Linked DNA regions of Homo sapiens. The protein of the gene in region 1 interacts with the protein of each later gene in a pairwise test. Each region holds a gene or a part of one and is shown in the gene's direction. Other genes may lie near its edges.

Region 1 (4,374 bases):
AGGTCACGAAAGATCCCTCCTCAGTCTGAGGACCCTATAGCTCCTTCCTGCTGCTTGGGGGCCCCTCCCCACTGCCTGAGGTCCCCTCAGAACACTCCCTGCTGCTTGAGGTCTCTGCAGTGGCTGGACAGAGATTGTTTGTGTACGCATGCTCACGTGTGTATCTCTGTGCCTGTGCACGTGTCTGTGAACCTGTTGCGGGGAGGGGATTCTGTGATTAAGTTAGGCTCTCTCTTGTTGGTAGCTACAAACTTTTTTAAGATCCAAGTCAATTCTCATTCAACCTCCATCCCAACCCCAGAGACAAGGGAGAGAAATGACAGCAAAGTAACCACTGGGGCAGTTAAAACTTGTGTGAGAATCCTCCCACCTGACTTTCACTGGATGTTCCTAGAAGCCCTCTTCTGTGTTGGCATGTCTGTGTGTGTGCGAGAGAGCATTGTGTGTCTGCGTACTGGTCTGGTCCATACATCTGTGTGTAATTGGTGAGCATTGGTGTGTGTCTGTGTGAACCAGCACATCTATGAGCCAGTCCTGGCCCACGTGGGTGAGTGTGTGCAGCCCCACCCTTGTGCTTTGTGTGGTTGCTGGTTGAGAATGGTCTACAGCCCTCTCAGGAATTGCCTGACAAGCAGCTGGGGCCTACCTGGGCTTGGGCCGCTACCTCCAGGGGTGCAGCTATAGATGCTCATGACTCTGACTTCTGCCTCAGGGATTCCCCCAGCATAGGAGAGGGTGCTGCGGTTATCTCCTCAGCAAAGGTATCCAGGCCCCAGGCCTGACCAGGGGTTGCCTGCCTCCAGGTGCTGCTGTGCGGCTGTGTGATGAGGCCCAGGGTTGGCTGGAGCCCGACCTCTTCAACTGTACCTCCCCTGCCTTTCGAGAGCTCAGTCTGCTGGTGAGACTGCCCAGACCTTTTCCTGCAACCTAAGACCTTCCTTGGCCTGTGGTGGGCCCCAGATACCACACCCTAGCCCTTGAACTCCTGAGCCTTTCCTGGTTGCCCTTTAATCTGGCAAGGCTTTCTCCCTGTGAAGCTTTAGAGGAAGGCCTAAGGGACCACAGAGCAACCATCTCCTTGTCTTGGCAGCTGGATGGCCTAGAGCTGAACAAGACGGCACTGGATACCATGGAGGCCAAGAAGCTGGCTCAGCGGCTACGGGAGGTGACTGGCCACACTGACCACTATTTTAGCCAAGATGTTCGAGTCACTGCCCGCCTGCTGGCCCACCTGCTGGCCTTCGAGAGCCATCAGCAGGGCTTCGGGCTGACAGCCACACAGGATGCCCACTTCAATGAGGTGGGGCTGTGCCCTATGTTCTCAGTGCCTTGGCCCCCCAGCTCCCAGCCTCCTGCCCCTGGATCCCCAGCTCAGGCTCCTGCTGTTCTCTTGGGAAGTGAAGGTCCTGGGCTCTCCCTCTGTCCTTGTCCTCTCCAGCCCCGCCCCCTTGCCTGTTGGAGCCCCTCTGAGCACCTGTCCAGACCTCTCATGCCTGCCCTATCCCCTCATACATCCTCACCACCTGGCTGAACCCAATTCTATCTCTGTCTTCCCAGAATCTGCTGTGGGCCGGCTCTGCACTGCTTGCCCCAGAGACAGGGGACTTGTGGGCGGCGCTGGGGCAGCGGGCCCCTGGGGGCTCCCCAGGCAGCGCGGGACTGGTGAGGCACCTGGAGGAGTATGCAGCCACACTCGCAAGGAATATGGAACTCACATACCTGAATCCCATGGGGCTGGTGACGCCTAATATCAGTGCGTTGTGGGTGGGGTAGGGCGGGGCACAGCAGGGGGGCCATGAAAGGGCAGGTACCTGAAGGTCTGAGGGGCTGTGGCTATCAATGCCAATGTTAATGGCAGGAGACTCAGCCACCGCCCTCAGCGTTTTGTAGGGACAGGCTCCGAGCTGGTAGCACAGAAAACAGATTGTGGGACTCAGGTGCGGGATGCGAGTAAGAGGGAGTAGAACCCTTGGCAGGGGGAAGAGGTCCATGATGGGCCTCCCCTTTCTTTCTCCTGGGTAGTGCTCAGCATTGACCGCATGGAGCACCCCAGTTCTCCCCGGGGGGCCCGTCGCTACCCTCGCTACCATAGCAACCTCTTTCGAGGCCAGGATGCCTGGGATCCTCACACCCATGTGCTGCTGCCTTCCCAGTCCCCACGGCCATCCCCATCTGAAGGTGAGAGCCCCTAGGGGACCCCTGGGCCAAGTCCTGTCTCTCTGTCCCCCCAACCAGATACTATGTTGCCCTCCTGCCAATTTTCCCCTTTCTAGACCTCCCCAGTGTCAGACCCTCCCACATCTCCCCTCCACCCTCCCTCCCATATTTCCCCTCCACCCTCCCTCCCACATCTCCCCTCCACCCTCCCACATCTCCCCTCCACCCTCCCTCCCACATCTCCCCTCCACCCTCCCTCCCACATCTCCCCTCCACCCTCCACCCTCCCACATCTCCCCTCCACCCTCCCTCCCACATCTCCCCTCCACCCTCCCTCCCACATCTCCCCTCCACCCTCCCTCCCACATCTCCCCTCCACCCTCCACCCTCCCACATCTCCCCTCCACCCTCCACCCTCCCACATCTCCCCTCCACCCTCCCTCCCACATCTCCCTTCCACCCTCCCTCCCACATCTCCCTTCCACCCTCCACCCTCCCACATCTCCCCTCCACCCACCACCCTGCCTCTCACATCTCCCCTCCACCCTCCACCCTCCCTCCCACATCTCCCCTCCACCCTCCACCCTCGACCCTCCCACATCTCCCCTCCACCCTCCACCCTCCCACATCTCCCCTCCACCCTCCACCCTCCCACATCTCCCCTCCACCCTCCCACATCTCCCCTCCACCCTCCCTCCCACATCTCCCCTCCACTGTCCACCTTGCCACACCTTCACTTTGTCAGAGCCTCTCCCTCATCACAAATGACCCCTCCCAGGCCTTGACTGTTACTTTCTGGGTTCATGCTCCCTGCACTCCCCAATTCTGCTCCTGCAGGGAAGAGACCCCCATGCTTGATCGGGTTCAGAGCTGGGTTGGTGGGTGCTTTGGGTCAAAGGTCACTGACAGAAGCTCCTCCTTCTCTCCTGGCAGTTCTGCCCACAAGCAGCAGCATAGAAAACTCCACCACCTCAAGTGTGGTCCCCCCACCAGCCCCGCCAGAGCCAGAGCCTGGGATCTCCATTATCATTCTCCTCGTTTACCGCACCTTAGGGGGACTGCTCCCTGCCCAGTTCCAGGCAGAACGCCGAGGTGCCAGGTACTCAGGCCCCTCACCCCTGAGCTTCCTACGAACTTCTCAGCCTGGCAGCCCCTTTTTTGGTGGGTAGATGCGTAGGTTCACAACACACAGAGAGGAGCACAGCTCCAGGGAGCCCCATCCTTGCCGGGTTCTGTGTGAATCTTATTCTCTGGAGTTGTGCAGAGTGACAGAGCCACAGGCTGACAGACACAGAGCCACACACAGGAGGGATCCATGAGCCAGGTACAGACAGACCAAAGGGCTGACAGAGACAGACAAGGACAGGCTGACTGATGGGGGTAGGAGGGAGGGCAATCAGAGGCAAACAGTTGCAGGTCCCCTGGAGCTGCTCAGCCCCTCAGCAGCCCAGCAGAAGCTGGAGGGATTCTTAGAAACAGCTTCCACTCTGGGGACATCCCAGACCCTGGGTCAGCCCTGGCGAGTGGCATGAAGACGGGGTGAGGCAAGCAGGCTGAGCATGGGGAGGTCAGCAGTGCGTAAGCCCAGATGGGTGTCTCCCCAGGCTTCCTCAGAACCCCGTCATGAACTCCCCGGTGGTCAGCGTGGCTGTGTTCCACGGACGCAACTTCCTAAGGGGAATCCTGGAGTCCCCCATCAGCCTAGAGTTTCGCCTGCTACAGACAGCGAATCGGAGCAAGGCGATCTGTGTGCAGTGGGACCCACCTGGCCTGTGAGGACCCCCATTCTGGAAACCCTTGGTCCCGTTAGCCCTTGGGAGGCCAACTAATAGTCCCAGCCTTCCCCTGGGGCCCCCACTAGTGCTGTTGTGCAACCCGGACCATGAGGAATGCTGTACCCCAACTCCAGGCACCCTCAGCCCTTCCCATGATCTCTCACAAACCCCTGCCTGACACTGGGTCACAGTTGTGTCTAACTGCCCTGTGGCTGCAGGGCGGAGCAGCATGGTGTGTGGACAGCACGGGACTGCGAGCTGGTGCACAGGAATGGGTCCCACGCACGGTGTCGCTGCAGCCGGACAGGGACCTTTGGGGTCCTCATGGATGCCTCTCCCCGTGAGGTGGGGCTGTGTTCAGTGTCCCAAGGAAGTGGGGGGTCAAAGGGACACGGGGATTCTGCCCAACAACCCATCAACCATCCCTGTCTCTGTAGAGGCT
Region 2 (4,374 bases), on another chromosome or scaffold:
AAATAAGATACTGTAAGTGGAAATATTTTGTAATGGCTTAATGTCCTATTTTTAAAATTTTGATTCTTATTTTGCATCGTTAATGCTAAAATGACTTTGAGACTTTTAGTCAGTATATATTTTGGAGACTGCAAGTTACTTTAAATCATACATTTTAAAAAGAATTAGGGCAAGCCATTTTGTTACTCTTTAATTGACCATTATGTGCATGTAATAGTTGATAAAGTACATTGAGGACCTAAATAAGTTTTTTTTTTGAGATTGAGTTTCGCTGTGTTGTCCAGATTGGAGTGCAGTGGCGCAATCTTGGCTCACTTGTAACCTCTGCCTCCCGGGTTCAAGCAATCCTCCTGCCTCAGCCTCCCGAGTAGCCGGGATACAGGTGCCTGCCACCACACCCAGCTAATTTTTTGTATTTTTAGTAGAGACAGGTTTCACTCTGTTGGCCAGGCTGGTCTTGAACTCCTGACCTCACGTGATACACCCGCCTTGGTCTCCCAAAGTGCTGGTATTACAAGAATGAACCACTGTGCCTGGCCAATATGTTTTAATGCAGTGCTAAATGATTAGTGTTTCCAATTTATAATAGTATACATCATTGTAGTTTATTCTGTTTGTTTCTTTTTAGAGAGCATGTACATATTTCTATAAATATGGTGTTATTACCCATACATGGATTTTTGAAGGCTATTTATAAGCCTAAGTGTCCATCAACAAGCCTTCAAGACTTGAAGTTACAGCATTTCAGTGTGTATTTTAATCAACTTGTTGGCTGTCATAACCAATGAGTTCTACCCTGACTTCAAAACTCCTACTCACTCTAGCCGTGGGCAGTGCTCTGAATAAATAGATGTACCTTGTGCTGTGTTCTTAAGGTCAGATGAACTTAATTTAAAGATTTTATACTGGTAAACATGTGCGATGCCCTGGAAACCTAAAGTGAGTTTTCACAGTAGCCCATCTCTTGAAATTCTCTCTTCAGTTGTAATTTAAGCTACTTTGTGTCCTTAGAGAGCAGGTTCATAGAGATCATATGAATGTCCCCTACTTTTTTTGATTCTCAAAAACCAAGTGCTTCTAGTAGCCTTGTAAATAGGAAATATATGCAAATGCTGTCAACTTCTCAGACCCCAGTGTTTCGTAATTCTGTTTTACATCCTTGGCTGCAATCAGATTGAACTGTTTCTTCCTCTCTGAACACACCCAGCAACTTTTTAGCATTTTTGCTTTGGTTTTTTGTCTACTTGAATTGACACCCCCTCTCACATCTTGTATCTATTATTTTTATTATTATTTTTATTTTTTGAGGCAGAGTTTTGCTTTGCCGCCCAGGCTGGAGTGCAGTGGTGCGATCCCGACTCACTGCAGCCTCCACCTCCACCTCCTTGGTTCAAGCGATTCCCTGCCTCAGCCTCCTGAGTAGCTGGGATTGTAGACTGGTCTCCAACTCCTGACCTCAGGCAATCCACCCACCTCGGCTTCCCAAAGTGCTGGGATTACAAGTGTGAGCCACCGCGCCTGGCCTGTATCTCTTAGAAATATATATACTTACACTTAACTTTCTTCCAGTGACTCCTTTAAAATTTTTACTCCTTACTCTCCTATTCTCCTTCTGTAACATATTTCAGGATGACTTTCACGTTCTGTCTTACATAATTAGTTGTTTACATTTTAACTTAACTGGGTTTTTGGCCTCTTCAAGGTAGAGATCTCATTCTTTTATCTTCACAGTGTCTAGCACAAGGCTTCCAACATAATGCATTGTACATGGTAGGTGTACGTGGTAGTGTGTTCTGGTGTGACACATTGAGAAACGATGTTGTGAAATAATATTAGCATCGTTTGCCATAATTTACTTGCTTGTTTTCATTTTTCAGGGGTTGGCAGCTGAGTGTAGAATATAAATTTTTCAAAATTAGGCTCATTAAAATCAGCTACTTAAGGAATTGTTAAGACCCTAGAATATTTTAGTTAGTTGGTTACCCCAAATTTAGCATTTGGAGATGATGTTTATTAGTAGATGATGATTTATTTATCAATACATATTTATCAAGTGCTTACTGTGTGCCACAATTGTGCTTGACAGAATATAAAAGGGACCTGAAACTTATTCCTTGTCTTCCAAGTTCTGTTATGTTTCATATAGTTGATATTTATCTTATTCCATCACAGCTTATTTGTCTAAAACTGTATATAGGAGTATAGTATTTAGCATAGAGAAATATTCTGTAAAATTCTAAATGTAGATTTTCTGCATTTAGAAAATCTGATATTAGAATGTAAATTAAGAAACATGAATTAGGGCATGATTTGTGGCTATACTAAATAAATTGTTGAAGCATCTTCATTTACAAATATTCAGCCAGGTGCTGTGGCTCATGCCTGTAATTCCAACCCCTAGGGAGGCTGAGGCAGGAGGATGATTTGAGCCCAGGAGTTCAGGACCAACCTAGGCAACACAGCAAGACATCATCTCTACTAAAAATAAAAAATTAGCCTGATGTGGTGGTGCATGCCTGTAGCCCCAGCTACTTGGGAGGATTGCTTGAACCCAGGAAGTTGAGGCTGCAGTGCGTCATGCCACTGCACTCCAGTCTAGGCCACAGAGTGAGACTCTGTCTCAAAAAACAAAAACAAATACTCATCAGCAGCTAATGTGAGTGCATATCTGGTTCCATACAAGATCTGCCCTCTTAGAGGGTGCTGAAAAAGAAGAGATTTATAAAAGGAGATTCCTTATCTTGAAATGTACTTTGTTGTAGATGAGTTGAAACTTACGACTACAGCACACAACATCTAACATTGTGCATATTTGTTATTAAGTACAAGATCGAGTTTTATACAGTGGGTACTTGGAAGTTTAGAGAGGTTCAGTTCTGGGTTGAAGTTACTTAGGAAGACTATGAAGAGAGAGGGGCTTAAACTGGCCCTGATTGTTTGGAGGAAGATATAGAAGAATGGGGAGCTTAAAGGTGTAATTGTGGTGAGGATCTAATATTAAGGTAAATGGGCTCTCTGGAGTAGAGGGTCCATATATATGAAATAACAGGAAATTGGGCTGAGATTATTGAAGTTCTTAAATGGGAGATCACGGAATTAGATTTAACAGATTATGTTGAATGATTGTTGATCCCTGAATAGGTGATGTGAAAAAGGTGTACAAAAATATTTATGAATGAACTGAAAACAAAAATAAAAGTGCTTTTAGATGTCATTTTTTATGACAGTGCTTCCCTTTCTGATACTACATATAAAAGTTTTTGTATTAAGTTTTGGAGGAGATAGAAGTAGTGAAGGTAAAACTTCTTGTTTTTTCCTGTTGTTTAAAATGTTAAATAAGCAGAAGCTGGTTTATTGTCTAAATGACCCACACCAGTCCTCTGTTGGACACAGAAGTCTTCCTTTAGTGGAAGCTATCAGTCATTTTGTCTCAGCACATTCAACTGTTGTTTGTTCAGATTTTTTGTAATTCAAAATACTTTTTGATACCTAATGCATGATTTTTTGTGAGTTGTCCTCAGTAATTTGTAAGTCTTATATAGGGAAACTTTTGCTTAGCGTTCAATACAGTGAAATTATGTTTAAAACAAAAGTGAATTGTGGCTTAAATATTTAAATACTTCTGGTTTTTTTTTTCTAGCCATTACTGACTCTGGGATAAATATGTAAATACTTTTAAAAAGTACAAATTAATATTACATAGTTTAATCAAATTAAATATTCTAATAAAATATTCGCTTTGCACTCTGCATAGTAGAGTTGTTACCCCTTTAATTGTTTTTAAAATTTTATTTTGACACATAATATGTATGTATTTATGGGGCACTTAGTAATGTGTCAATACATACAATGTATAGTAGTCAGACCAGGGTAATTAGCATACCATCATCACAGACACTTATTATTTCTTTGTGTTGGGACATTCAATATCTTCCCTCTAGCTATTTGAAACTGTATATTAAACTATAGTCACCCTGCAGTGGAATAGAACAGGAGAACATACTCTTCCTATCTAGCACAGTTTTATATCCTTTAACAGATACCATTACTTTTATACAAGTATGTATACAGGATTTTAAAAATGAGAAGTTAGGTTGTATGGTGGCTGAAGAGAAACTAAAAACAATTTTTTTCAGTGTTCTGATAGCTATGATATTTAGCTTTCTTTAGCAGCTTTTATTTCTGGTGTGTTCTTACAGACTTTCCTAATTGCAGTTTGGATTAATTTGATTCTTATGTAGAAAGCAGAGATGCTAGCTATGCAGATTTATGACTCAGAATTGTACCTGTTTGTAGAGTAAGGAAGGCTGTATTGTCCAACATTTTGTGGACTTTAGAATAAAAATATTCGTGAAGTCTATCTGTTTTACTGCT
Region 3 (4,374 bases), on another chromosome or scaffold:
CTGTTTCCAAAGGACGCCATGTCACAAGGACCAGGGATAGGACTTCCACATATCTTTGTGGGGACACAATTCACCCCCTAACAGAAACGTTCCCCAAGCTCCTCAGACTTCGATAATCACCCTCTCGGTGCCCAGTGCACCTCATATTCCATAAAGAAAATGAGGTGCCAGGTGCGGTGGCTCACGCCTGTAATCCCAACACTTTGGGAGGCCGGGGTGGGTGGATCATGAGGTCAGGAGATCAAGACCATCCTGGCTAACACGGTGAAACCCCGTCTCCACTAAAAATACAAGAATTAGCCGGGCGTGGTGGCGGGCACCTGTAGTCCCAGCTACTCAGGAGGCTGAGGCAGGAGAATGGCATGAACCCAGGAGGCAGAGCTTGCTGTGAGCCGAGATCACGCCACTGCACTCCAGCCTGGGCAACAGAGTGAGACTCCATCTCAAAAAATATAAATAAATAAGAAAATGAGGTTTCCTCCTCTACTCACTCTTCAGCCCTCTGCAGGCTCCCTATTGCCACCACAACTTCACCCAAGCAGCGACAGTCATCAGTTGCTTCTAGGTGTCACCCCCTGAGTGTTTTGGGGTCCTTGTCTGTACCACACTCCTGTGAAGTCCTCTGGGAAACATGCCCGAGAGCGCAGGGGTAGGGCGTTCCCTGCCCGGCCTCCATGGCTTTGCCAGCTCTTCCTCCATTTCCAGCTTGTGAGCACCATGGCCTTCTGCAGAGCTTGGTCAGGGCTCCTCTCCATTTCTTCCTTCTCCTGTGATCTGAGCATCCCCAGTGGCTTGCAGACATACATCTCCTGCCTAGAAGTTCCCTCTGAGCTGTAAGCTTAGGGACCCAGCTGCCTTCCTGACATCTCTAGGGTGTTTCAAGGAGACCTCAGACTGTACAAAACTGAACTGAAATTGTCCCCCACCCTTCCCCTGCCTCATATCTCCTGCTCACTGAGATGGGCACCTCCCATCTCAATGAAAGTCACCCCCTTTATCCTGGTTTCTAGAACAAGAACCTGGGCATGACTGTTGACATTTCCCACTCCCCTACCTTGTAATCCATCACTAGATCCTCCCAGTTTCTCCCCCGGAACCTCTGGCGAGTCTGCTGCTGCTTGCCCTTCCAACCGCCCTTCCCTCCTCCAGGTTCCCATCCCCCTCTCCTGGACACCAGTACAGCTTCCTACTGTGGCAGCTGTGCCCTCACAGGCCTCCTCTACTTTACACGGCAACCAGGCCTGGCCTGTCTTGGCATCACAGATGGAATCACTCCCTGCTCCCACCTCCCCGGCCCTGTGCTGCTCTTTGGGTGAACATGGAGTCCCTGATGTGGCCCCTAGCGCCTCCCAGGTCTGGCTCTGTCACCTGTCACATCAGGCTCACCTTCCTTGATGCTGACACAGCCTTGCACAGCCTTCCTCGGCCTTCCAGCCCTGCACATGCTGTGCCACCTGCAAAGAAGACACTCCTTCATCCATTTTTGTAATTAATGCATTAATCCTTCAGGTGAAAGTGGCTAAGTGGCCCCTTAGGAACTGCTCCCCCCTCCACACACACACACACACACACACACACACACACACACACACACGCCCTTGCAGCGCGATGCAGCGCTGGTCAGCGGCTCCCCTGTTGCCAGCAGGCTCCTCCATATACTGGCAGCTTTGCGAAGGCCGTGCCAGACTTAGGGCTCAGTCCAGCCCCAGCACCAACCCCACTTTTGCCCATTTTTTTGGGTAGATTCTCCCTTGCAGGAGCCTATAACATATATGGTAAATGGGATATTTTTTAAAATAAATATTATTAAATTCCAAAGTTATAGCAATTTTAGGTAAAATTTTTAAATTTAGAAGATCTAAAGCATACTATTATAAAACTAGTCAATAGCATATTTCTGTGTTTCCAGTTGGCACAAGGAAAACTTCAGGATTTCAAAATAGTGATCTATTGGACAATGATGAGATCACAGAAGATGGCTCCTAAGCCCAGTGGAACAACTGGGGGCAAACCAAGTTAATCTCTGAAAACGCACTTATATCTTCCCCAAAGCTGCTGCTTTAGAAAATTTTAGAAAACACAGCACATGGCCGGGCACGGTGGCTCACGCCTGTAATCCCTGCACTTTGGGAGGCCGAGGCGGGCAGATCATGAAGTCAGGAGTTTGAGACCAGCCTGGCCAATATGATGAAACACTGTCTCTACTAAAAATACAAAAATTAGCTGGGCTTGGTGGCGCGCCTGTAGTCTCAGCTACTTGGGAGGCTGAGGCAGGAGAATCGCTTGAACCTTGGAGGCGGAGGTTGCGGTGAGCTCAGATCATGCCACTGCAGCACTCCAGCCTGGGCTACAGAGTGAGAATCCATCTCAGAAAAAAAAAAAGAGGAAACGCAGCACATATCTCACAAGCTGTCATTAGTGACATCACCACATCACACAGCCTTTGAAAAGCTCCACTGTAGACGCGTGAAAGAAGGAGAGTATGAATGGCACTAACCTGTCACTATTATTCTGAAAATAATTTTCACCTTTCAGATCCCTGAAAGGGTCCTGGGGTCTCTGGACAACACTTTGAGATCCCTGGGGCCACAAACCTCACCTGCTGGCTCGCTGGTGGTTTTTGTAGATAAGGTTTTAGGGAACCCAGCCACGCACTAAAATGCGTGCCAGCCATCCAGCAGCCATGGGGAGGAGGTGGCACATCATGACAAGGTGGCACTCCATGAGAAGCTGGTCGGGGTTGCCAGCTGAGCACAAGTTACCTTCTGCTTTGGTAGCTCAGCTAGGGGCAAGGTTGGTGCGTTTTTATGAAAAATTAAAGAGTCTACTGAGAACATTGCCCCATTGCCTTAATAGCTTTTGTACCTTGTCGCCAATGTGGAGTCCACAGATCACACAGAAGTTTTGTTTGTTTGTTTGTTTGTTTTTGGAGACAGAGTCTTGCTCTGTCGCCCAGGCTGGAGTGCAGTGGTGCGATCTGGGCTCGCTGCAACCTCTGCCTCCTGGGTTCAAGCAATTCTCCTGCCTTAGCCTCCCGAGTAGCTGGGACTACAGACGCCCGCCATCACACCTGGCTAATTTTTGTATTTTTAGTAGAGACGGAGTTTCACCAAATTGGCCCAGCTGGTCTCGAACTCCTGACTTTGTGATCCACCCACCTCAGCCTCCCAAAGTGCTGTAATTACAGGAGTGAGCCGCCGTGCCCGGCCTAGACAGAAGTTCTTAAAAGTAGCTGTCCCTCTCTGAACTGTGGGAATTTGCCTCTCATCCAATGCAGGGGGAGTGCGTGCCAGATACACACGTCGAGAGGCCGTTCCGGGTTGCTTCCCTGTGCTGGCACCCGACGCGGCTGGTGCTGGCTGTGGGCTGGGAGACTGGAGAAGTGACGGTGTTTAACAAGCAGGACAAGGAGCAGCACACGATGCCCCTGACACACACAGCCGACATCACCGTGCTCCGTTGGAGCCCCAGTGGAAACTGCCTGCTGTCTGGGGACAGGGTGAGTCAACACGCGCAAGACGCTGTTTTCAGACCTTGACCCTTTCTGACCATGCTCGAGAGTATGAAAGATCAAAATATGGGAACCGTGCTGTTGCCAAATTCAGTTGATCTTGTCAGATGCAATTGTAGATTTTGTTTTATATTGGAAGCAAGGCTTGAAAATTTGCCACTCTGTGGCAAAGGTGTGTCTGCACCTTTATAAATGAACTTTGCTGGGAAACTGCATTCGTAAAGATACGTGCCCAGATACTGTCACTTTTCCCTAGGCCTGTTTGTCTAGCTCAGGGCTTCTTAACCAGGGTTGGTTCTGCCCCCCAGGGGACATGGGGCAGTGTCCAGTCACATTTTCTGTTGTCACAATTTTGGGGGAGGATTCAGCTGGACCCCTGTGGGTGGGTGGTGGATGCTGCCCACCATCACACAGTACACAGGACAGACCCACAGCATAGCGACATGGTGCAGAGGCAACTGAATCACAAATATATGGCAGAAATGTTACAATGTGTTTACTTAAATAACCACAGGTAACACATTCACATGTTCCAAGATTCAAAAAGGGTAACAGGCATCTAGAGTGAAGACTGAGCCATGTCCTGTCTCCTCAGTCCCCTGGCTGCTGCCTTCCAGCACACACAAGTGCATTCTTACCACCTATCCTGCTGCTTCAGGCACACACAAGTGCATTCTTTCTCTCACTTGAGATTTGAAATTTCTACATTATGAGAGGAGTTGAAAGAACAGTGCAAGGACACGCATCCACCCTCCATGTCGATTCGCCCGCTGTTCCCACTGCCAGGTCTGCTTTCCCTCCAGCTACGTGGGTATTTTACCTGAGTATTTGTGAGTTTATCACAGATAACGATGCTTCAGCCC
Region 4 (4,374 bases), on another chromosome or scaffold:
ATTTATTTATTTTTTTGAGATGGAGTCTTGCTCTGTCACCCAGGCTGGAGTGCCGTGGCATGATCTCGGCTCACTGCAAGCTCCACTTCCCGGGTTCACGCCATTCTCCTGCCTCAGCCTCCGGAGTAGCTGGAACTACAGGCGCCCGCCACCACACCCGGCTAATTTTTTTGTATTTTTAGTAGATACGGGCTTTCACTGTGTCAGCCAGGATGGTCTCGATCTCCTGACCTCACGATCTGCCTGCCTCGGCCTCCCAAAGTGCTGGGATTACAGGCGTGAGCCACTGCGCCCAGCCTAAATGTATGCATAATACTTTCTAGGGTGCAGTGAACGTGGACTGCTTATGTTATATAGCTTTATATCGTCACTATTTTTTCTGAGTATTCTCATAGACAAAATTACGTTCTATAGGAATTTATAAAGTATAAATTTATAAAGTGAATGATACTACATTGAGTGGATGGACTACGTTTTGTTGATTCGTCTGTTGGCAGACGCGGGTTGTTTCTACTTTTTGGCTATTGTGAATAATGTTCATTGGCATATGACTTATTTGAGTCCCTGCTTTCAGTTTTTTGGGGTATATTCTTAGGATTGGAATTGCTGGGTCATATGGTAATCCTAATTTGTTTTTAGTTTTAATTTTTTTAATTAAAAAAAGTTTGTATTTTTACATTTGTATAGATGGGGTCTTACTGTGTTGCTCAGGCAGGTCTCGAACTCCGGTCCTCAAGCTGTCCTCCTGCCTTAGCCTCCCAAAATGTTGGGATTACAGACCTGAGTCATTGTACCGGCTCTCATTTTTGTTGTTGTTGTTTTTGAGACGGGGCCTTGCTCTGTCTCCCAGCCTGTATTGTAGTGGCGCAATCTTGGCTCACTTCAACCTTTACCTTTCCAGTTCAAGCGATTCTCCTCCCTCAGCCTCCCAAGTAGCTGGGATTGTGTGTGCACCACCATGCCTGGCTAATTTTTGTAGTTTTAGTGGAGAGGGGGTTTCACCACGTTGGCCAGGCTGGTCTCGAACTCCTGACCTCAGTGTTCCACGCACCTTGGCCTCCCAAAGTGCTGGGATTACAGGCGTGAGCCACCATGCCTGGCCTTGTTTTTATTATTTATTACTACTATTTATTTTATTGTTATTTTATTATTTATTTATTTTTTTGAGATGAAGTTTCACTATGTGGCCCAGGCTGGTCCTAAATTCCTGGGCACAAGTGATCCTCCCACCTCCACCTCCCAAAGTGCTAGGATAACGGGCATGAGCCACCATGCCCAACCCCCTTTTGTTTTTACAGTTATTTTTTGCCTGTTGCAATGTGCTTATTTTCCCAGCTGAACCTTAAATATTTTATGACATAACTAATATGTAAATAGACTGCCTTTATAAACAATTCATTGATACAGACAAAACTGAATATCCTCATCTCTCCTGTTACTCAGGAGCAGTCCAGTTAACTAGTGTGATGTGTATTTTTTTAGACATTTTTATGAGTGTATCTACACGGAGACTAACGTGGTTGGTTTTGTGTGTGTTTTCTGTGGTAAGTGGCATCCCATGTGTGTTATTCTGCAGCTCCCTTTTGTGCTTAATTGTGACTTCGCAAACTTTCTGTCTCTGTATGTGTGATCAGCTGGTGAGAATCATCTCACCAAATGCCAACAAGGCCAAGTTTGTGAGTTCTATGAAGCAAAGTTGTTAATTAAAAAAAAGGGGCCGGGCGCGGTGGCTCACGCCTGTAATCCCAGCACTTTGGGAGGCCAAGGTGGGCGGATCACCTGAGGTCAGGAGATCAAGACCATCCTGGCTAACACGGTGAAACCCCGTCTCTACTACAAATACAAAAAATTAGCCGGATGTGGTGGCGGGCGCCTGTAGTCCCAGCTGCTCAGGAGGCTGAGGCAGGAGAATGCATGAACCCTGAAGGTGGAGATTGCAGTAAGCTGAGATCTCACCACCGCACTCCAGCCTGGCTGACAGAGCGAGACTCTGTCTCAAAAAAAAAAAGGGGGAAAGAGCAAATACATGCTTGTGAGACAGGTAAGGGAGATGAATACTGCTGCTGCCGCAGCCAGAGACCATGCAGTTAGCAGACGTGTGGGTGGAGAAATCACTGTCGTGCAAAGGACAGGAGCTCCTGGTGCCTTTGAATGGTCTGTTGTGCTTACTGCATTTGAGTTTTCAATCCCATTTCCTTTGGTTTCCTGATATACTCACACATGGCGGTTGTGGACTGTTTTCCAGGCATCTGCAGCCCTGGCTAGAAAGAAGGGGAAAAGTTTGCATAAAGACATGGCTATCTTTTGGCACAGGAAGAAAATAAGTGAGTTTTCAATTATTCTTTTCACTTTTTAAAAAAATTATTTTTATTTATTTTATAGAGATGAGATCTCGCTATGTTGCCCAGTCTGATCTTGGGATTACAGGCATGAGCCATTGTGCATGGCCCTCTTTTCAGTTTCTCATGCTCTTGGTCCAAACCCTTTGAGCGTGAGCCCTTTCCCCAGCCAGTGGAGGAGGCTGGCTCTCAGTGGATTTGCATCTCACAGTTATTTCCTTGGGCTCTTCTCTAACCTCCTGTGACAATGAAAATAATATTACTTTCTTAGAAACAGAGTGAAAAAATCCAGTTCCAGGTGATCTGTGATTGCATAAACTCTTTTCTGCCTCCTATGTCCACAGGCCCCAATAAGAAACCCTTTTCCCTGAAGGAGAAGAAACCAGGTGACGGTGAAGTCAGCCCGAGCACAGAGGATGCACCCTTTCAGCACTCTCCTCTTGGCAAGGCCGCAGGGAGGACTGGTGCTAGCAGCCTCCTGAATAAAAGGTGGGATCGGTCCCTCCTAATGACCTTATTCCGGAAGGACCAGGAAATAGCGCCCTATAGCGACACCTGAGTCAGGGTGCAAGACTGTGGGGAGTGGTGAGGAGACAAAAGCCAGTTGCTAGGGATGGTTGGGGGTGGAGGGGCAGGGGCTCTGCCCCTCCTGCCAGCATGGGCCGTTAGGAGGTGGGTCTGTGTGGGGCTGGTGGTCCCAGCCAGAAGAGAGAATTTTCTGACACTGGTAACTGCCAGCTGCAGAGATGGTGGAGAGCAGTGATTCTGTCCTGTCTTGTTCTCATATACCCTAGGGCCAAGGTTGCTGAGAAAGCCTTCCTTTGGGGCTGGCCTTTTTTTCTTGTTTCCATCTTGGCATTTTCTATGGGAGAATCTCATCACACAGTTGTTATAGCTGGTACAGACCTTTCAGCTGCAGCTACAGGAGATCCAGGGGAGGCTGCTCACTTAGGACAGCAGAACTTCTGTCCTTGCACAGAGTGCCTGCTCTGTGGGACACACGCAGGCTGGCGCCCTGTGGCGGGTCGCTGCCTGCCTCACAGGATTGTAGTAGGAAATCTCCTTGCTCATCTAACTCGTCCTGAATCCCACTGCAGTTAAGTGCAGTTCCACTTGACATATAAATGTATAAGCAATAACTTTTTACCTCAAGACATTTAACTGGCTGTAATAAACCATGCATTCCTTTTTTTTTTGAGACACAGTCTGGCTGTTGCCCAGGTTGGAGTTCAGTGGCACGATCTTGGCTCACTGCAACCTCTGCCTCCTGGGTTCAAGAAATTCTCCTGCCTTAGCCTCCCTAGTAGCTGAGATTACAGGTGCGCTCCACCACGCCCAGCTAATATTTTTGTATTTTTAGTAGAGATGGGGTTTCACCATGTTGGCCAGGCTGGTCTCGAACTCCTGACTAGAGATGCATGCCCGGCCAAACCATGCATTTCTAATAATCACTTTCAGCAGTTTCCAGCATTACTTTTTTTTTTTTTTTTTTCCTGAAGAGCTGTCTCCTGGCCGGGCGCAGTGCTCACGCCTGTAATCCCAGCACTTTGGGAGGCCAAGGCGGGCGGATCACAAGGTCAGGAGATTGAGACCATCCTGGCTGATATGGTGAAACCCCATCTCTACTAAAAATACAAAAAATTAGCCGGGCATGGTGGCAGGTGCCTGTAGTCCCAGCTACTTGTGAGGCTGAGGCAGGAGAACTGCGTGAACCCGGGAGGCGGAGCTTGCAGTGAGCCGAGATTGCGCCACTGCACTCCAGACTGGGCAACAGAGCGAGACCCCATCTCAAAAAAAAAAAGGCTGTCTCCTAAAGGAAGGGCAGCATGACTTTTTGCAGGTGCAGCTTATCACAGTGAAGCAGACACGGTCGGCCATGTTAGTTGTGTTAACCGGCATGTGATGTGAAGTGCCCTGGCTACCTTGTCTGTCTGGGGAACTCTGTTCTCAAAGGCTTTTGCTTTTCACACCAGGCCTACTTTGACAGATCTCCGGCTGAATCCATCTTTTCATCTTTTGGCCAATGTATTTTCCT
Region 5 (3,790 bases), on another chromosome or scaffold:
ATCCGCCCACCTCGGCCTCCTACAGTGCTGGGATTACAGGCGTGAGCTACCGCACCTGGCCGCCTGTACATTTTTTTTACACATGTTCTGTACTCTAATATAGAACCATGGAGTTCTCCCCTACAGGTAGGTTTGTGTCATAATCAACTGATAAGATATGTTAAATAATTTTTTTTACTGAGAATAATGAAAGTATACACAATTTTTTTCTCTTGTTCCAGCTTTCTTCTGTTAGAAAAAAAAATCTGTTTAGAGTAATAAATTATTTTATATTAAAGGCTATACCTGTAACCTCATTATTGCTTGTTTTCTGCTGTCCTTGAGTGGATGAGAAGGAGGTAATTATAGCTGGTGGTCTTATTCCTTGTTCACATAACAGTGTGGTGTATATATGAAAAAGAAAAAGTGTGGTATATATGATAATAAATCAGTCCTGGTGTGGAGGTAGGAAAAATAATTGAGAGTCTCTGTTTTAATATATGCTTTGGGAATAGGAATGTAAAAGTAGACATGATGTCCCAGTTTGAGAATAAGATTGGAGGTGGTTCTTCGCATGTGGTCTTCATCTGTTGGTCTACATGGCGTAAATAATAATTTAAAGCTCTTTTTTTTTTCCAGGGAATGCTGGCAGACTTTGTGTCCCAGACTTCTCCAATGATCCCCTCCATTGTTGTGCATTGTGTAAATGAGATTGAGCAAAGAGGTCTGACTGAGGTAAGAGTCAACTGTAGGAGATGGTGAATTTGTTATTTGTGTTAATTCGGAGGTTTTTAAATAAAAATGTCATCTTGATAATAGACAGGCCTGTATAGGATCTCTGGCTGTGACCGCACAGTAAAAGAGCTGAAAGAGAAATTCCTCAGAGTGAAAACTGTACCCCTCCTCAGCAAAGTGGATGATATCCATGCTATCTGTAGCCTTCTAAAAGACTTTCTTCGAAACCTCAAAGAACCTCTTCTGACCTTTCGCCTTAACAGAGCCTTTATGGAAGCAGCAGGTAAGGGCAGATGTAATACTTGAATATGAATTCCTCCACGGCAGTAGTTTTTCTTACTCTCTTTATTTTTTTATTTATTTTTTATTTTTTAGACAGAGTCTCACTCTCGCCCAGGCTGAAGTCAGTGGCGCAATCTCAGCTCACTGCAACCTCCGTCTCCCAGGTTGAAGCGATTCTCCTGCCTCAGCCTCCTGAGTAGCTAGGATTACAGGCGTGTGCCACCATGCCTGGTTAATGTTTTCTATCTTTAGTAGAGATGGGGTTTCACCATGTTAGCCAGGATGGTCTCGATCTCCTGCCCTGTGATTTGCCTGCCTCGGCCTCCCAAAGTGCTGCGATTACAGGCGTGAGCCACCGTGCCCAGCCTCTTTTTTTTTTTTTTTTAAGACGGAGTCTTTCTCTGTCGCCCAGGCTGGAGTGCAGTGGCGCTATCGGCTCACTGCAAACTCCGCCTCCTGGGTTCAAGCGATTCTCCTGCCTCAGCCTCCTGAGTAGCTGAGATTACAGGCGTTAACGGTGTTATACCATGTTAGCCAGGCTGGTCTCAAACTCCTGACCTCAGGTGATCTACCCACCTTGTCCTCCCAAAGTGCTGGGATTACAGGCATGAGCCACCACACCTGGCCACCTTCCTCTTTTTATTAGCTCCTGCCTAGTACAATGCCTGAAACATAGTAGGTGCTCAAGTAGTTTGATGGATGAGTAACTGTATGCGTGTCACCCTTGCCTATCCTCTTGCTTTCTCATTACGTTATTGTGTACAGTGTTCTTCCTTTCTTTCCTTCCTCTCCAGTTAGGTTGGAGCTTTTTCAATTCTTAGAATATACCAAGTTTACTCCCTACCTTAAGGCCTTCACATTTGTTGTCTCAACCTGAATGCTCTTACATTAGATACAGTATGGTTTGCTCCTTTATTTCTTTCATATTTCTCTTCATATACCTTGTCCCCAGAAACACCTTTCCTGACAACCTTGTCTAGATTAACAGCTCTCATTTCTTTCTAGCTTCTTGCCTGCCTTGTTTTCTTCATTTATGTATCACTCTACCTGATAGGTATTTGCTTTTTGACTGACTCCACCAATAGAATGTAGGTTCCATAAGATAAGGGCTTTGTTTACTTCTGCTTTATCCTCAGCACTTGTACCTGGCACATCGTAGGCCCTTAAATATGTCTCATGAATGAATACCTTCTTGGTAATTGTAGTCACTGCAATTGTATGCCTGTCTGCCTAGCACATCAGTTGCCAACTGCTTTCCCTAACTGCAAAGGCCGATTTTTTAAAAGTTTTGACTTCTAATATTGAGCTGTTGGCCAGTATCCTGCTTGTTAATGAAACTAGAGTCTGATGTAGTCATGAACTAATCAGGAGTTTCAGAAGCTTACTGTATAGATGAGACTTTGTGGTCGATAACTTGGAAGCCCGCTGTCAAGGGAAAGAAGTCTAGGCCTCTTGGTGCTTTCTTTTCAATTACAGAAATCACAGATGAAGACAACAGCATAGCTGCCATGTACCAAGCTGTTGGTGAACTGCCCCAGGCCAACAGGGACACATTAGCTTTCCTCATGATTCACTTGCAGAGGTGAGTACAGCAGAAACTTGTTCTGGGAGTTAGGGAATTTTTTTCCAAGGGGAAGATAATGTGGGTTGAGTGTTTGGGAGTATGAGGGATGAATTGTTTTCTTATAGAATTTATATTTTGGTCTGCATTTAAGCAAGGAGCAAGACTTCTAATTTAATATTCTTTTGCTTAGAGTGGCTCAGAGTCCACATACTAAAATGGATGTTGCCAATCTGGCTAAAGTCTTTGGCCCTACAATAGTGGCCCATGCTGTGCCCAATCCAGACCCAGTGACAATGTTACAGGACATCAAGCGTCAACCCAAGGTAGGCAGGTGCGTGTGTGTGTGTATGTGAACTTGTGTAATGTGATAACTTGAAAGACAGTTGAGAAGCCCTGAGCTTTGGAAGTTTGCTAACAGATTTGCTGGCTTTTAGGTGGTTGAGCGCCTGCTTTCCTTGCCTCTGGAGTATTGGAGTCAGTTCATGATGGTGGAGCAAGAGAACATTGACCCCCTACATGTCATTGAAAACTCAAATGCCTTTTCAACACCACAGACACCAGATATTAAAGGTAAGGCCCAAGATGTGCTTCTTCAGGGACTTGACTCTCTCTTTAGTTTTAGTCATATGACCTCTTCCTGCCTTTGCTAGAGCTGTTTGAAAATTCTAACATTAAAGGAAAATTTGTATAATTCTACCATCGTAATTTTTTTTTGCTTTTCCATGTTCTCCTTTCTTTATCCATATGGATATATGTTTTTTAAATATAGATATAATAGGCTGGGCATGGTGGCTCACACCTGTAGTCCCAGCACTTTGGGAGGGAGGCTGAGGCGGACGGATCACAAGGTCAGGGGATTGAGACCATTCTGGCCAACATGGTGAAACCCCATCTCTACTAAAAATACAAAAATTAGCTGGGTGTGGTGGCGCATGCCTGTAATCCCAGCTACCAGGGCGGCTGAGGCACAAGGAATTGCTGGAACCCAGGAGGCGGAATTTGCAGTGAGCTGAGATCCCGCCACTGCACTCCAGCCTGGTGACAGAGTGAGACTCTGTCTAAAAAAAAAAAAAAAAAAAAAAAAAAAATATATATATATATATATATATAATAGTTTAAATATAATTCATTCTTATTTCACTTAGCATGTTGTGAGAACTTTTTCTCATGTATAATCTTATTTATCATTTACTTAAATGTTCTAGTAGGTATTAACATTATTTTTCAATT

Evidence for each region.
Region 2: the proteins of CELSR3 (region 1) and TRIP12 interact in a two-hybrid assay, tested with the Homo sapiens proteins (one large-scale study listed by IntAct).
Region 3: the proteins of CELSR3 (region 1) and IFT140 interact in a two-hybrid assay, tested with the Homo sapiens proteins (one large-scale study listed by IntAct).
Region 4: the proteins of CELSR3 (region 1) and MCM3AP interact in a two-hybrid assay, tested with the Homo sapiens proteins (one large-scale study listed by IntAct).
Region 5: the proteins of CELSR3 (region 1) and RACGAP1 interact in a two-hybrid assay, tested with the Homo sapiens proteins (one large-scale study listed by IntAct).

Annotation. Positions count from the first base shown.
Region 1 is NC_000003.12:48,645,645-48,650,018, reverse strand, and holds part of CELSR3 (cadherin EGF LAG seven-pass G-type receptor 3 precursor), read left to right. Parts: intron 1-803; coding exon 804-898; intron 899-1,090; coding exon 1,091-1,300; intron 1,301-1,557; coding exon 1,558-1,753; intron 1,754-2,022; coding exon 2,023-2,178; intron 2,179-3,090; coding exon 3,091-3,256; intron 3,257-3,761; coding exon 3,762-3,929; intron 3,930-4,150; coding exon 4,151-4,277; intron 4,278-4,369; coding exon 4,370-4,374. UniProt on the Homo sapiens protein: Receptor that may have an important role in cell/cell signaling during nervous system formation.
Region 2 is NC_000002.12:229,911,136-229,915,509, reverse strand, and holds part of TRIP12 (E3 ubiquitin-protein ligase TRIP12), read left to right. Parts: intron 1-4,374. UniProt on the Homo sapiens protein: E3 ubiquitin-protein ligase involved in ubiquitin fusion degradation (UFD) pathway and regulation of DNA repair.
Region 3 is NC_000016.10:1,601,495-1,605,868, reverse strand, and holds part of IFT140 (intraflagellar transport protein 140 homolog), read left to right. Parts: intron 1-1,386; exon of another isoform or gene 1,387-1,454; intron 1,455-3,277; coding exon 3,278-3,499; intron 3,500-4,374. UniProt on the Homo sapiens protein: Component of the IFT complex A (IFT-A), a complex required for retrograde ciliary transport and entry into cilia of G protein-coupled receptors (GPCRs).
Region 4 is NC_000021.9:46,278,447-46,282,820, reverse strand, and holds part of MCM3AP (germinal-center associated nuclear protein), read left to right. Parts: intron 1-2,245; coding exon 2,246-2,324; intron 2,325-2,683; coding exon 2,684-2,828; intron 2,829-4,374.
Region 5 is NC_000012.12:49,991,338-49,995,127, reverse strand, and holds part of RACGAP1 (rac GTPase-activating protein 1), read left to right. Parts: intron 1-618; coding exon 619-714; intron 715-798; coding exon 799-997; intron 998-2,472; coding exon 2,473-2,578; intron 2,579-2,750; coding exon 2,751-2,883; intron 2,884-2,994; coding exon 2,995-3,130; intron 3,131-3,790.